2 linked regions of the Homo sapiens genome follow. The protein of the gene in region 1 interacts with the protein of each later gene in a pairwise test. Each region holds a gene or a part of one and is shown in the gene's direction. Other genes may lie near its edges. The genes, in order: MESP1 and ZIC3.

Evidence for each region.
Region 2: the proteins of MESP1 (region 1) and ZIC3 interact in a two-hybrid assay, tested with the Homo sapiens proteins (one large-scale study listed by BioGRID).

The regions. Positions count from the first base shown.
Region 1 is NC_000015.10:89,749,339-89,753,029, reverse strand, and holds MESP1 (mesoderm posterior protein 1), read left to right. Parts: upstream 1-1,780; 5' UTR 1,781-1,798; coding exon 1,799-2,521; intron 2,522-2,802; coding exon 2,803-2,886; 3' UTR 2,887-3,155; downstream 3,156-3,691. UniProt on the Homo sapiens protein: Transcription factor. Plays a role in the epithelialization of somitic mesoderm and in the development of cardiac mesoderm. Defines the rostrocaudal patterning of the somites by participating in distinct Notch pathways.
Region 2 is NC_000023.11:137,569,023-137,572,814, forward strand, and holds the end of ZIC3 (zinc finger protein ZIC 3), read left to right. Parts: coding exon 1-43; intron 44-868; coding exon 869-1,048; 3' UTR 1,049-3,080; downstream 3,081-3,792. UniProt on the Homo sapiens protein: Acts as a transcriptional activator. Required in the earliest stages in both axial midline development and left-right (LR) asymmetry specification. Binds to the minimal GLI-consensus sequence 5'-GGGTGGTC-3'.

The DNA.
Region 1 (3,691 bases):
TCTCACTCTGTCATCAGACTGGAGTGCAGTGGCATGATCTCAGCTCACTGCAACCTCCACCTCCCGGGTTCAAGTGATTCTCCTACCTCAGCCTCCCAAGTAGCTGGGACTACAGGCACGTGCCACCATGCCTGGCTAATTTTTGCATTTTTAATAAGACGGGGTTTCACCACGGTGGCCAGGGTGGTCTCAATCTCCTGACCTCATGATCCACCCCCCTTGGCCTGCCAAAGTGCTGGGATTACAGGTGTGAGCCACCGCGCCCGGCCCAATATTAACTTTCACCTGAAAGGTGTCTGCGGCCTTTTCGACCAGCTGAACACCATAATCCTCTTTAAGTGGCTGAATGGTCACACCTCTTCCATTGACAAGCTGGGTTAAGTCAATAGGTTGAGTAGGATCAACACGACCCAAATCAGTAACATATTACAGTCTATTGATACTTAAAGGTTGATACTGGTGTCTGAAGCTAAGTCCTTCATTAAATCTGTATTTTGGGATTCCGATGTAAAATAGAGTCTGGCCATCCCCAAAGCCCAGCAGAGCCAGTTTCCTCTCTGCCTTTCTCTTTTATGGCCTCTGCCGCATTTTCTACCTCTTCTCCGACCTTTTGGTCGTCTCATGGGTTTCCTGGAGCCAGGATTCCGCTTTAAATTGGTCAGGCTCATGCGCAGCAGGGCCCAGAGCTGCCATAACCTGCGAAAAGAGTTTTATTTCTTCCTTTCTGACCTGTATGTCTTTTGTTTCCTAATTGCATAGCCTAGATCCTCCATCTGGTACAATGTTGAATAGGAGTGGTAAGAGAGACACCCTCGCTTTGTTCCTGCAATCGGGGGGTGGGGGGAAGATTTCAGTCTTTCACTACTCAGTATGAGGCTACCTGTAGGTTCTTTGTAGGAGCCTTTCATCAGGTTGATGAAATTCCTCTCTATTCTTAGTTTGCTGAGAATTTTCATCACGAAGGGTGTTGGATTTTGTCAAATGCCTTTGCTGCGTCATTTCCACTCACATTTCATTGGGAAAACCTGTTATACCTGTCCAATAGCGGCAGAACATCAGGTAAAGGCCAGTGGTGACAGCTGTGGCAACAGGCCAAGCTCCAGACCTTGCCAGGCTAGAGGTGGCCTGGGGTTGGAGCAGGCTTAACCCCCTCCCTCTGCTCAGAAGGTCCAGCATCCTGACCAGACTCGGCAGCTTATTGAATTTGCCGGGGTGCAAGCTTCCTTGCACTGTCCACATGTTCTTACCAGGGAAGGGTCTACCCAGGGCCATCCTGCCTCAAAGGAGAAGTGGTTTACTGTTTTCTCCACCTTTAGAGGGAATGAGGGTCCCTGCTCCTGGTCCTTACTCTACTCCACTGTCCAATTGGCGCATGCCCTGAGGCTCTCATTATACAAATTGGAAGCTAAGGTGCAAAAGAACTAAGAATTTGCATAAGGTCCCCAACAGGTGAAGGCAGGCCCCAAACCTAGGATCTAGATTTCGTTTTTCTGACCCCGCTTCCTTTAACCTGCAGGGCTGGCCCAACGCCCCGGGCTTCACCCAACACTGGGCGCAGGCGGGAAGGCCGAGAGGCTGGGTCGGGCGCCCAAGCGAGGGCCCAGGTGGGGCGAAACAGGCGCAGTCAAGGGGCTGGCACCTTGGCCCCCCGCCGTGGATTCAAAGGGTCAGGCTCCGCCCCCTCCAAGCCCCGAGCCCACTTTGATGTGCTGATGCGGCCTGGAAGGGGCCACTTCACACCTCGGGCTCGGCATAAAGCGGCCGCCGGCCGCCGGCCCCCAGACGCGCCGCCGCTGCCATGGCCCAGCCCCTGTGCCCGCCGCTCTCCGAGTCCTGGATGCTCTCTGCGGCCTGGGGCCCAACTCGGCGGCCGCCGCCCTCCGACAAGGACTGCGGCCGCTCCCTCGTCTCGTCCCCAGACTCATGGGGCAGCACCCCAGCCGACAGCCCCGTGGCGAGCCCCGCGCGGCCAGGCACCCTCCGGGACCCCCGCGCCCCCTCCGTAGGTAGGCGCGGCGCGCGCAGCAGCCGCCTGGGCAGCGGGCAGAGGCAGAGCGCCAGTGAGCGGGAGAAACTGCGCATGCGCACGCTGGCCCGCGCCCTGCACGAGCTGCGCCGCTTTCTACCGCCGTCCGTGGCGCCCGCGGGCCAGAGCCTGACCAAGATCGAGACGCTGCGCCTGGCTATCCGCTATATCGGCCACCTGTCGGCCGTGCTAGGCCTCAGCGAGGAGAGTCTCCAGCGCCGGTGCCGGCAGCGCGGTGACGCGGGGTCCCCTCGGGGCTGCCCGCTGTGCCCCGACGACTGCCCCGCGCAGATGCAGACACGGACGCAGGCTGAGGGGCAGGGGCAGGGGCGCGGGCTGGGCCTGGTATCCGCCGTCCGCGCCGGGGCGTCCTGGGGATCCCCGCCTGCCTGCCCCGGAGCCCGAGCTGCACCCGAGCCGCGCGACCCGCCTGCGCTGTTCGCCGAGGCGGCGTGCCCTGAAGGGCAGGCGATGGAGCCAAGCCCACCGTCCCCGGTTAGTGTCCCCTTCCCCGCGCCCCCTTCGTCCGTGCCCCCGCGCACAGCCCCACCGCCCGCCAAGGTGAGGACCAGGCACCCTGCTGCTCCCCGCCGGCAGCCTGGCCACCTGGCCACCATAGTATGCCCAGGGCTCCAAGAAGCGAAGGCAGGGAAAGGCCACGCAGAGGACTGGGTCTCCCCTCGCTAGGGGCCCCCTGAGAGTGGAGCCCACGAGCGCGGACACCCGCACAAGGCCACCAGTGCTTGAGGGCTGCGCTGTTCCGTCTCTCCCTACAGCTCCTTCCGGGCGACGTGCTGGCTCTGTTGGAGACCTGGATGCCCCTCTCGCCTCTGGAGTGGCTGCCTGAGGAGCCCAAGTGACAAGGGACAACTGACGCCGTCTCTGTGAGCACCGAGGCTTTTTGGCCTCAGCACCTTCGAAGTGGTTCCTTGGCAGACTGCCTTTCCTGGAAGAGGGCACGGGCGATCCCGACGGGGGCATTCCTGCGGGTGAGAGCCGTCCCCACCGCGGCGGCCCTTCTCAGCCCCTCCCTCCATGGAGGGACCCATAGGGCTAGACACTTTGAGGCAAGCAGGAGGCTCTGCCTAATGTGAATTTATTTATTTGTGAATAAACTGTACTGGTGTCAGTTGGCAATTTCTTCTTCCTACCCGTGGACACAGAGCTCCCTCTCTCCCTCCAAAGAAGAGCATGGGAGAGGTGGGAGGGGTTCTTGCAATCTTTAGCCCCCCGACCCCCACAGGCCCAGACCCCTTTGGCCTTACCCCCAGCCCTGGCTCAGCATCTAGTCCAGATGGGTCAGCCTGGAATGGGTGGGGAGGGACGTCCTGTGAGAAGGCAGCGGCAAGTAGAATCTGCTCATCTTTTCTTTGAACCTGGTGGGGAACTGGTTAAAACCAAAATATCTGTGTAGAAATACAACTCCATTATTGAGTATTTATTGTATGTACATCAGGTACCTATTATACTCAAGTAACCATTTTACAGAAGGATGAGGATCAGCGCTCAAGCCCAGGTAGGCCTCCAGAGTCCCAGCGCTCAGCTCTTGTGGGATTTTGCCAGCTCCATACATGTTGGGGCCTGAGGGATAACAGCTCCAAGGGGTTATTTTCTTGCATCCTGTGGTCTTATTCTCCATGCACGGGAGCATCCTGGCCTTGGAAC
Region 2 (3,792 bases), on another chromosome or scaffold:
CAAGTCCTACACGCACCCGAGCTCCCTGCGCAAACACATGAAGGTAATTACCTCTTTATTAGCGGTCGGCGGTTTGTAAACACTCGGCCCGACGCCGGGCCGCGGAACGGAAGCGCCCGCGCTGCCAACCCTCTGTCTTCCACGTTAAATCCGATTTGCTCCAGCAGTGACACCTTGAACCCATTTTGGGGACCGGGCGGGGGTGGGGGTGAGGGGGTGGGCGGGAGTGAGCAAAGTTGGGAGGGGGAGGAAGCGGAGGGAACAATCGGTTGTTTACTGGGAAGCTCTAGCCGAGCTCGCCTGGGCTTGCGGGGCTGCCGTGGCCGCCTCTTCCCGACTCAGCCCGCGGTGGGAACCGAGAGTAGCCGCGCCGAACCCGAGGGTGGGTGGTTCATTCGCTCTTTGGCTTCGGATAAAACAATAGGGCCGAGGAGTGCAATCTGATTCCCACACATTTGTCTGCGACTTCGCAGCGCTCAGGGCCCCTGTGCCACCTTCTCTGTACCTGCTTTCTCAAGCCGAAACGGGCTTGGTGAAACCTGGGCCCGGAGTTAGTATTTTATAGGACCTCACAGTGTACTGCTTACCTCACTCCATCCGCGGAGAAAGCATTTTTGAAGTGGCATGACCAAAACGGAATGCTTTATTCCTTTTCCGTAACACCAGTCTTAGGAGCAAAACTGGTTTTTGGCGAACATCTCCGGGTTTTCTAGACATCGGTAATACGGATTTTTTTTAAGCAGCATTTTTCTTTTAAGTGGGTCACTGGGCGGTCTTGTTGTTACAGTGCTCGAATTCTGCTCTTGTTTTTGCTTGCACATTGCCAGTTGGAATTATATTCATTATAATATATACATGTTAATTTTAGGTTCATGAATCTCAAGGGTCAGATTCCTCCCCTGCTGCCAGTTCAGGCTATGAATCTTCCACTCCACCCGCTATAGCTTCTGCAAACAGTAAAGATACCACTAAAACCCCTTCTGCAGTTCAAACTAGCACCAGCCACAACCCTGGACTTCCTCCTAATTTTAACGAATGGTACGTCTGAGGACAAACACAAACCCTGTTAATTATAGAATGGACCAAATACATTTTTAAAAGAAAACTGAGACCAATCAGATGGAAATGGAGTTTTAAGGCAAGAGGCCATATATAGGGCTACATCTTGTTAATTGCAATTGTCCAGGAAGGTTTTGGGCAAGATCCAAAAGTAGCCATGCCCTTTTCTCAGGATAGAAAATATGTTTTGGCATTTGAAGCATTTTTTACAAAATCTTTACACTACTTTTTCTTCCCCTTCCTCTTGCTCTCTGCACACCCCATTCTTAAACTCCTCCAATTCATTTTAACACTTGTCCTGTTTCTTGAGAGGAAGTTATAGAAGGCTTGTTGGTGGTGGTGATGTTAAACTGATGGAAATTCTTTTTCGCCTTAGTGGTGATTGTTTAAACTCTCACAGTCTTAAACCGTGCCAAAGTCCTGTTATGTCTTGAACTTTTCCTCAAAGCATTACACTTGTGAATGTATTTTTGTCTAATAGGGTCGAAACTGTTGTTCAGTATTTTTTCAGGCTGAGGATGTGATGTTACTCTACACATTGTGACGTTTAGTATACAGTTGCCTTTTGTAATAACTTTTTTTTTGTAAATACATATCCATTGATGCCATATTTATCGTTTGTAATTTAATTATTGCTACAAGTGCCGGGAACTGAACAATATTTATGGATAAATGTTTTCTAACAAATTCTGTACAGCTTTTGATTATAACTGCTTTAGCATTAAAAATTGTTTTGAAAGAAGAACACAATTTACAATTTTGGAACCACTGACTCCTTTCTCTTGTTTTGTAACAGCCTTCTTCTACAAAGAGGAGATGTGAGCAAATTAAATCTTGTTTGTTGGTATTTATAACTCACTCAGATCCCTTTTTTAATTGTTAAATTATTTTTCTATTACAGTATAAATTCCTTACAGTGTCAGTTTCCATCTGGGAAGACTCTCCTTTCTTTATCTCTATCTCAGATGGTTGTTTAACTGCGAGTTTAAATGTGTTTGTCCTGGATTTTCGGCATGCAAATCAAATATTACTGATCAATTCAGTTAGTGGCCATGACATCTCAATCTTGTACTTCAAAGACTGAGAAGCTGGATTTAATCATCCCTGCCCTACATATATAAACATAAGGTAACCTACTGAATTTTATGTCCCTTAGTTCTTTATTACCTTACATAAAAATGAAAATTGCGGCAGGATGCATGTCTGTCTGTTCTATCTAGAGATCACCCATATACCTATATATGTTTGTATCTATGACTTATCTAATCTGCCTATCAATCTATCTAGTAGCTATCTATATATTTTCAAAAGATAGCTTATGTCTAAAACAGTGGTGATGAGTAAGGCCAGTTGAGCATTGCTTACTTATGGTTAAAGTGCTTCTTAAAAGAACCATAGTCCATTTACAATTTTGGAAGGCAAAGGCTGATTTGTTTGCTGTATATAGTTCAATTCATAATTATCGCAATTATCCATAACATTTATATAGCGGTGTAATAACTGCAGCAGTTCTGAAATGATGCTATGGGAAAAAAATTGCAAAATATGTATTTTTAAAGTTCATGATTTGTAGGCAAAGATGTTAAGAGCATTGTTTCCATTAAAATCAATAACAATGAAAAACGGTTGTTTGCTTTGTGATAAAATGTTAACAATCCATTTAATCTTCAGTGAAGCAACTCATTTGGACAAACAGTTCTTTTACAGTGGTTATATGGAAAAGAAATTGATTGCTATTTTGGGGGGCTGGAGTGGGTAGAGTATTGAGACCTTTTTTATTAGGGTGCTGTTTGTTATTGAGAGCCCAATCTCTGCATGAATAACAGAAAGGTGGACATAAGGAATTGTAAAGTATTTAGAATGTATTGAATAGGCTTAAGTACCTCCTTTAAGGGGCAATGCTCTAGGTTTTTGGTGGCAGTCAATTTGGTATTATATATGATCATTTTCAATTCTAGAATTTTGTTTATTGTTCTTTTTGAAGAAATAAAGTCTTGGCACATCTTATTTATGTTATAACATTTTTGTATTTGGTGCCTGATTTTTTTTCATGTTCAAATAAATCAATCTAAAATTGAAATGCTTACAGAACTTCTGATGATTAAAAGAAACTTTGATTCTGTGAATGCGGTTGAAGCAGTCTATTTAAGTTATCTACTGATCTTTGTCAACAGACAATTAGTTATTGACAGTTTCTAATTGCAAATTGCTTTGGAGGCTATTTTTTGTTAGTGGAGAATAATGGGGTCTTTTGCATTTTCTTCCACCAATATCCAAGCCTGAATGCCATGAACAGAGATTGGGATGACTACACATGTGATGAGCAGGTAACCTGGTCAGTCTATCACTCCCAACCCAGACATTCCGATCTTGACCTTGACATTGAGGGTGCTGGACCAGATTCCTATTTCAGGCTTTTTCCTTCACCTCAAACCAGAGACCATTTTAAATGCTCAGCAAGTTCTCAGAAAGTATATATTCATAAGACTGGCTCTAAGTGTGTTCCATTGTGAAATCTAAATAGTGTATTTTTCTTCTGAACTGTACAATGAACTTCCATAATTTACCACTTTCTCCATGAGTTCCCTCCCCCACCCTCAATCTAACCTAACTTTACGTGGAAGTAGAGCCATGGGTTGGATACAGGATTCAACCAAAAACCTGCCTCCCTTTCAATTAAATGTATTAAATATCTCCTGAGACAAAGAGCAGTTTGATCTTTTCTTAGTTACC